Linked DNA regions of Homo sapiens: region 2 is linked to region 1. The links come from fine-mapping of genetic effects on gene expression. A gene starts in region 1. The other region holds a variant in brackets. All regions are shown on one strand. Distances are between the middles of the regions.

The links. PIP is the estimated chance that this variant, and not a neighbour inherited with it, causes the effect.
Region 2: its variant is the best candidate, but not a certain one, in a credible set for the expression of SYNDIG1L in thyroid (GTEx, PIP 0.67).

What each region holds. Positions count from the first base shown.
Region 1 is chr14:74,423,610-74,428,126 of GRCh38, forward strand. It overlaps SYNDIG1L (synapse differentiation inducing 1 like), which reads right to left and starts at 2,601. Exons shown (of 4, transcript NM_001105579.2): 1 at 2,303-2,601.
Region 2 is chr14:74,534,483-74,538,482 of GRCh38, forward strand. It overlaps LTBP2 (latent transforming growth factor beta binding protein 2), which reads right to left. Exons shown (of 36, transcript NM_000428.3): 9 at 1,444-1,518. Among named protein-coding and RNA genes, the nearest start is that of ISCA2, 43 kb to the left of the region's middle. The variant C/T (reference allele first, on the strand shown) is at 1,535.

The DNA.
Region 1 (4,517 bases):
TAAGGTTTTTCTGAGCATCGGCTGGACCTGCCACAGTTGAGGGAAATTATTATCAGAGAAACTCATTTTGATTGATATATATATACACACACACACACACACACACGTAACACAAATATAAATTCTCTGTAGGGATGGATATTTCCTGCTTGTCCCCTCCTCTGGTCTTCCTAGGAGGGAGATCATAGCCAGGCAGGGTCCCTGGTAGGAGATGGCCAATGGTGGGGTCCCTGGCCCTTTGTTACTCACAAGAGATGGTGGTGGTGGTGGTGGTGGTGGTGGCAGGGATAATGGGGTGGTGGTTCCTGGCCTCTGGGCTTGGAGGCAGGAGCCCCTCTCAGTTCAGTCATTCTGAGTCACACTTATGGCTTTCCCAGAGAAATAAGAGAGGGGGTTCTTAAGAAAACATCAGAAATATAAATGGCTTTTTCTGGTTCCTATTGCTCACTTTCACTCCATTCATAAAATCCAGTTCATTACTAAAAGGTCATTAACTTTGTTGTCAAACCAGGTTGATAAAGCCGGCATCCTGTATTCAAGCAGAATTGAGGGGTTTATGGGTTTAGGACAGCCTCAGAAAGCCCTACAGAATATCAGGGCTTGAAATCTTAACTCATCTAGCCCAACTCTCTTCTTTTACAGATGAGAAAAATGAACCCCCAGAGGGGAATGGACCTGCCTGAGACAGCGGCGGATCTGTGACCAGAACACAGGGCTTCTGACTCCCAGTTAAATGCTTTTATTCTGATACACTTTAACATTTCATTCCCTCATTTTACACCCGATTACCGAGTCCTTACTATCTTCCAGGTGCTGTTGGGGAGGGGGTCATGAAGGGGGACAAAGAGATGAAAACAACACAATTCCTGCCTTCAGGGAGCTCTTTCCCTAGATCTGTGGTTCTTAGGGAGAAAAAATAAAAACCGGTGAGTCAGACTCTTACCTTATATTATCTCCTATAGGTGATGATGGAAGAGGAGAAGAAGGGAGGGCACACTTTTTTCTCCTTAAGGTTTATAAGTTTGGCTTCACTGATTCTGGGACCCCACGGTGGCCAAGGACAAAGGGAGACATGGCCATGCTGGGAGAAGAGGGGGTAGGGGTGACAATAATCAGGTCACTGACAGCAGGCCTGGCTAGGGGTTGGGAACAGTGACAGCAGCGCACACTGGTATGGAGATGTACAGGTGGCAAGCCTCCAATCAGGTGCATTGTTTTTCATTGGGCCCCAAGGCAGTTCCCTGAGGTGAGCAGAGCGGTGACCTTATCCCCACTCCAGGGGTGAGGAGGATGAGGTTGAAAGAGCTTAGGGAACTAGCTAAAGCCAGTAAATGCCAGCACCCAGCCAGGAACTCCTACTCTAGTGCTCTTTCTACCCCTGGGGGTAGGGAAGTTGTGTTGGGTTGGAGGGTGGGGATAAAGCAGTAGAAAGAAGTGGTCAGCCACAAGGGTAGGCCAATTCTTCCTCCACGCAGTTTTATTTTGATCGCTACATTCTGCCAGTCATAGAGAACTCTGCTCTGAAGAACTAGAAGCACTTTGCAGGCCTGAATGAGCTCATTCAGCGCACTCTTGCCAGAAAGAGAGAGAACTCCTAATGGAGGCTCTGTCTAGGGTCACCAGCACATAATAGAAAACAGGACCCAGGTTCCCTGACTCTTTGCCCTCATGCGCCAAGAGATGTGATGCAAATCCTGCCTGCTTCTGTGAGCGTCAAGAGTGTCATAGGAAAAAAAATTGAGGTATCTTCCAGGACCTCCTTCCTTCCCTGAAGAAATGGGTTAATCCATCCTAAGGGGCCTTGGCCCAAGAGCCAATCCCTTGGCCCAAGAGCCATTTCCAGGGCAGAGAAATCTCAGAGCAGGGGGTACCACAGCCACCTCAGTCACCTGGGTGAACAGGTTTGGGTGCGAGAAGAGGGGAGCTTAGTGAAGCCTGCTCAGATTTTGCTAGTGTCGCAAAACCTTGGTGGGGACTGGGGTACCAGGGAGTCTGAGGCTCTAATCAGTATTTCTTGCCGTCAGTAGGCAGGATGTCTAGGAGCTGCCTGAGGTCAGGGTCAAGGCCTGATGTTGTGAGGTTATGGTGTCTTGACCCCAGTTCATCAGCCCCCTCCCAGCACCCCCAGCCTGCAGGATGAGGGGTAGGGAGGGACGAAGTGCAAGCCTTGGCGGAGCGCAAGGTGCGGCCAAGCAGGGAGTCAGAGCCCCTAGCCCCGAGAGGGCTCCCGTGCCCTCCCCAGCTCACTCCCCGCTCCGTGCCTAGCTCTGCGCTCCCGCGGCGCCCCCAGACCGCCCCTTACCTGTCCCGCCGCGGACGGTCCCGCCTCCTCCGCGGGGCTCGGGGGCTCGGCATGGGCCGGTGAGCGACGGCGCCCCCGCCTCGCGGTCGCGGTGGAACTCCCAGGAGGGCTCCCCTGCTCTCGTCCCCGCGTCCCTGAGCAGCCGCCGCTTCAGCACCGCGGACAGCTCCCGCCCGCAGCCCGCCGCCGCCGCCCGCCCCGCCCCGCGCGGTCCCGGGAGCCCCGCATCCTGGCCGGGCCCCGCCGCCGCCGCCGCCGCGCAGCCCTCGGCCCGGCCCGAGGCGGCTCCGCGCCGACTTGGGAGAGCAGCGAGGAGGGTCCCCCTCCTTCCCGCCTCCCGCCGCCGCCGCCTCCCTCTCGCTTCCGTGCTCCGTGCTCCCTTCCACGCTCCGGAATCAGCCCACCAGGCACTCCGGACCCGGCTCCGGGGCGGGGCGGGGCGGGAAGTCGGGGGAGCCCGGAGGAGGCGGCGAAGCGAGGGGCGCGCAGCTGGAACCCGCGTACCCGCTTCCTGGAGCCGAGCCCTCTTTCCCAGCCCTTCTCTCCCCTCCTCCCGCGCACCCCAGAGCGATGGGAGGCCCTTGGGCTTCTTGAAGCATTTTGGAGCTCCTAGGCTCCAAAGCCAGCCCTGAGTTTTTAACATTGATCTGCCCTAAAAAGAAAAACAAACAGAAAGCATTTATTGAGCACCTACTATATACCAGATACCAAGCCCGATAATGTGTTTAATCAACATAAGCTCATTTAATTTTCTTAACAACTCTATTAGGCAATATAGTGCCCCTCTTCCCCTCTTCCCCTCCCCCTGCCCCCCTCCCCCTGTCCCCCTTCCCCCTCCAATTTTGCAGACCAGGACGCTGGGCTCACAAGGATGAAATCCTGTGATTTGGAGATTCAGTGCTGTGCTGGGAAGGGCACAGGTTTTAAAGCTCATGGACCTAAGTTTTGGTCCTAGGGTCCCACTTGCTGTATAACCTCGAGCAAGTTACCTAACCTCTTAAAGCCTCAGGTTCCTCATGGACAAAGTGAGGGGTCATATGAGGACAAAATGAGATGACATACGTGACACATTGGCACTCAATAGGCACTCAGTGAGTGAGCGTCCCCCTGAGTTTTCCCAGCAAGAGCCCTGAGATCCGAATGCAGGCCTTTTGGCTGCTTTGTCTCCACCCTGTGCTGCTCTTTATCCACCTCCACCTGCGTTTCCTTTTTTTTTTTTTTTTTTGCATGGGGATGCCCTATCTTGAGTGTTACCAGTGGATGAACCTATTCTTCGAGCGCCTTCACAAGGTCTTGAGTCTCACCAAAGTCCCAGGAGGTCAGGAGGAGAGAGTATTCTCATTTTCTGAAGGTAAGTGTGGGTTTGCAAAGTAAACCACAGAGCAGGCTGCAGCTGGGGCTGGAAGACACAAGGAACCAGGGTCTGGCAGTGGGATTCCACTAGCATCCACTAGTCTCCTAGCATCCAGCTGAGGATGCTATAGCACATAGCATGGTGGACTCCAGGACTCCTTCACTCCCACAGGATGTGGGCATCTGGCACAGTTCGGTGTAGCTCCTAGAGTGCACAGTAGGAGCCAGGAGCAAGTCCACATCATGGGGCTTGGGTCTCCTTCCCTTCAAGGCAGGACAGAGAACTCCCTTATCCTGGGGTCTGTCTCAGGGCTGGTATTGGTGTTTAACTTGTTGGGTGCTAAATATATTATTGCTCTTCCTGTCTCTGCCCCATTAGTGGATAATGCAGTGAGAAGCCCCCTGAGGCCAGCAAGGGTCTTGGACCACTCATCTCAGGCCCATACTTCATCTTCACAGACACCCTCCTCCTCAAAACACAGACATACAGACACACACACAACACAGACACACATAGACACACACAGACACACACACAAGACATTGTCTCTGATGTCAGGCCACCCTCCTGTACCTTTGCTTTCTCTGGCCTTCCTCTCACAGGGGCTCATGGCCACCTACTTGGCCTTGGCCTCCCTCTGCTGCTCCCCTCCCCACCCTGGCTGTGCTCCATGCCTGGGCTGCATACTGAAATACTAATTGAAAGGATAATAAAAAAGCCAGTGAAGCAAAAGCCGCATATAAATTCTAAATACTAATGTTGATAATTACATGCTGCTGCCTGGAGGGAAAACTCAAAGAGAGGCTGTTGGTGTTGTATCAAGGGCCCTGGCCTGGTGCCAGGAGACCCAGGTTCTAGTCT
Region 2 (4,000 bases), 110 kb after region 1:
CTTGGCCTTAGGTATCACCTTTTCCAGGGAGCCTTCCCTGATCCTTCCAGTCTGGGAAGGCGCCCCCACCATGGGATCCTGTAGCACTCAGGGACTGCTGCTTTCTCTCAAGAATGCCCCGCTCATTAGACCTGATTGTTCAGGGGGTCTGTCTGCACTTGGGGCAGGACTGTCTTCTCCATCACTGTGTACTCCTAGCACAGTGTATGTAGCCCATAGTAACCTCCCCTCCAATACTCTGTGGAAGTAGGAGAGAAGGATGGAGAGAGAGGAGAGATGACGCATGCGGGTGCAGAGATGAGCAGGTCCCTTCGCAGACACAGAGACCACAGCCACATACATGGGAAGGGGAGGTTTCAGGGGCAGGGCCTCCTGAGGGAAGGTCCTTTGGTGTCCTGAATCTTGGGGCTCAGTAGAGGGAGGGCAGAGAGCCCATTTGAGATCCTGAGTATAACCTTAAAGCTCCAGATTGGGAAACATACCAGGAGGAAAAGCAACTGGTGACTGTTTAGACATGAACAGCCCCGATGTACCCTCCAAAGGCAAAAATACGTATTTCTCCCTACATCCACTGTCTGCTTGGCCCTCAAACCACTGGCTCCTGAGGGAGTCTGACTCTGGACTAGGCTGGGCCAGAGACCTGCCCTTTTGCTTGGCCCCAGCACCTTTGCTTATCCACGGGCTAGGAATCACTTCTGCAGCCTGGCACCCCCAAGGAAGACAGCCCAGCCATGCAGAGCTTCCCCAGACTCCTCTCTCTGAAGCAACCTCCAGGAGGAGGGCACCTTGGAGGCCATCTGGGTCAATCCCCTGTCTCTGACCCAGCTCCACCCAAAGCAAACCATACAGACAACTGTTTGTCCAGTTGTCAAAGCTCCCCACAGGGAAGCCACCTTGTTCCCCACTGGCCTCTGCCAGCCCCAGGAGCCTGTCCCAGGCAGGAAGCCCCCGTGCTCCCCGTCCCCTTTCCTGGCTATGGGTTGAAGCAAGCGGGAGGGAAGCCTGAGTAGCTAAAGGTTTTCAGTTGGGAAAAGCCCACAGAGGCCCCAACAACTCAGGCTGACTTGATTTCCCACCCTAGAGCTGAAATTCTTCCCACTCCAGGGAGACCAGCTCAGGAGAAAAGTGGAAGTGCACAGACTGGGGTGGCCCCTTCAGACACAGCCCCACATAGCCTAGAGCCCCTAGCCTGTGTTCCAGGTGGGTGTGGGTGGAGATGGGGACGAGGGGAGGTGTCGGCCCCCTTGGCTTCCTCTGTCACTCTCAAGCAAGTCCCTGGATTTCCTTAGTCCCCTGGAATCAGCAGCCCCCCACCACTCCCCAAAGCTGGGGCTTAGAGGGACTCAGTGGAGACCACTCGGCCAGTGACAGACACCCCTCCTGTCTGGTGCTGGGAGTGTGCCCCGGCATCCTTGAGCCCAGCCCTGGCCCTGGGGGTCCTACCTTGGCAGTGAGTGAGGTTCAGTCTCTTGTACCCCTGAGGACACTCCAGCTGGCCATTCTCAATCACCGGGGAGGCTGAAGAGTGGAGATA[C/T]GGACAGGTCTCACTGGACGGCCCCTGGGCTCCTCTGTCACCCATGCTGGGAAGCGGGTGCAGTCTGGATGTCCAGCCCACCCGGCAGCAGTGAGCCCCAGCCCCCGAAGCCATCGCCCTGGGCAGCTGTGCTTCCTGGTTCTCACCAGACTCCTCTCAGCCCACCTCGCTTTTATTAAAAGCAGTACTAAGTGAAATAAGACAGGCACAGAAAGACAAATATCACATGATCTCACTTACATATGGGACCTAAGAAAAGCAAACCCATAGAAGCAGAGTAGAATGGTAGTTACCAGGGCCTGGGGGAGAGGGGAGATATTGATCAAAGGGTACAACATTTCAGTTAGATACAGGAGGAATAAGTTCAAAGGATCTGTTGTACGACATAGTGACTATGGTTAATAACAGTGTCTTGTATTCTTGAAAATTGCTAAGAGAGTAGATTTTAAGTGTTCTCACCACAAAAAATAAATATATGAGGTAATACACATGGGTGCAATTTAGCCACTTTACAATGTATACTTATTTCAGAACAACAGTTGTGTACCAGCCAGGCGCAGTGGCTCATGCCTTAATCCCAGTGCTTTGGGAGGCCAAGGCAGGTGGATCACCTCAGGTCAGGAGTTCGAGACCAGTCTGGCTAACATGGTGAAACCCCATCTCTACTAAAAATATGAAAATTAGCTGGGCATGGCAGCACATGCCTGTAATCCCAGCTACTCAGGAGGCTGAGGCAGGAGACTCGCTTGAACCCAGGAGGGGGAGGTCGCAGTGAGCTGAGGTTGCGCCACTGCACTCCAGCCTGAGTGACAGAGCAAGACTCCATCTCAAAACAAACAAACAAATAGTTGTGCACCACAAATATATACAATTTTTATTTGTCAATTAAAATTTTGTTAATACTAAGAAAAATGTATTATATACTTCACATACATAGTTATTACATATAGTATCTACTACACTACATGCATGTTATATATATAACATGGATTTTATTGTTATTACTTTTTGCTTTTTATTTTGAAATACTAAAAATACACAGATGTCTGATTGCAGATTGACCAACAAGGAAATTATTCTCAGTATTTTTATGCTGATACACATCCTGCCTTGAAATCACAACATTCCCCCTTACTTTACAAAGAAAAAAAAAAAAACCAAAGAGTTGACATTAAATAAAAACAGGAAAAAAATCTCCATTACTTTGGAGGAACAGACTAGTGTGCCAACCCTCTTGAAAAGCTCTAGCAGGAGGCATACTTCTGATCGCCACCTGTCTTCACAGGAAAAGGCAGGGGAATACTATCTTTTGTGGAACAAAAAGAGAACTCAGCTATAAGTCTGACAATTCTTTTGCCTATAGATAGCCAGCAATTCTAAGCAGGCACGAGCAATTGCCACAGACCTTATTCCATACAAAGTTCCATAAATATACCATGATATTTCAAAGGTCTTGCTCTATAAAGGTAGCTGCATGATGGCTTCCTGTAGCAATTTGCCGTCTTCTAGCTTTGACTCCTTTGTGGCAATAGCTTGTCTCTGAATGCTGCACCCTCCATCTCTGTTACCTTATCCCAATTCCTTTTTCTCCCAGTCATAACATCAGTAGCTACACTTTCAGTGTTGTTTGCTAAAGCTTATTGTCATCCAGGAAGTCATTTACTGTTGAGAATATATGTCCACTGGTTCATCCTTTAGTGGTTTACAAAAAGAGAGTTCTTCATATTTTCTTCTTCTTCTTCTTCTTCTTTTTTTTGAGATGGAGTCTTGCTCTGTCGCACAGGCTGGAATGCAGTGGCGTGACCTCGGCTCACTGCAACCTCCACTTCCTGGGTTCAAGTAATTCTCCTGCCTCAGCCTCCCGAGTAGCTGGGATTACAGGCATGTGCCACCAGGGCTGGCTAACTTTTGTATCTTTAGTAGAGACAGGGTTTCACCATGTTGGCCAGGCTGGTTTTGAACTCCTGACCTCAGGTGATCCGCCTGCTTTGGCCTCCCAAAGTGCTGGAATTATAGGCATGAGCCACCGCACCCAGCCTTTCATATATTTTTATTGTTGAAATGAATTCTTGCAAATACCAAGAGGCATGTTAGAGATATTTATCCTTTATCCAATTGTACAGCAAAGTTTGAGTGTCTTGGTGGTTTAAAATGTTTTTCTAATCAAGATAGCTATTATTTCACCATTAGCTGCTCTCTCTGGGCACTTACACACTTAGCGCAAGGTTTGTTATTAGTAATGGCCTACATCAATCTGTATTTCATATAGTCTTCTCGATCATTTGGATCCTGGGGTACTTGGGGGTCACATCTGATAGGTCGTCACGATTTTTACTTTGTAATAAGGCTGAGTGACATGGTAAGACCCCCTGAGAAGGGTCGGCATTGCGTTTTTTAATGATTGCTTGTGATTATGGGACTAGTGTCATTTTGCATCCACAGTTTCTTTGCAGGAGCTTTTAAGAG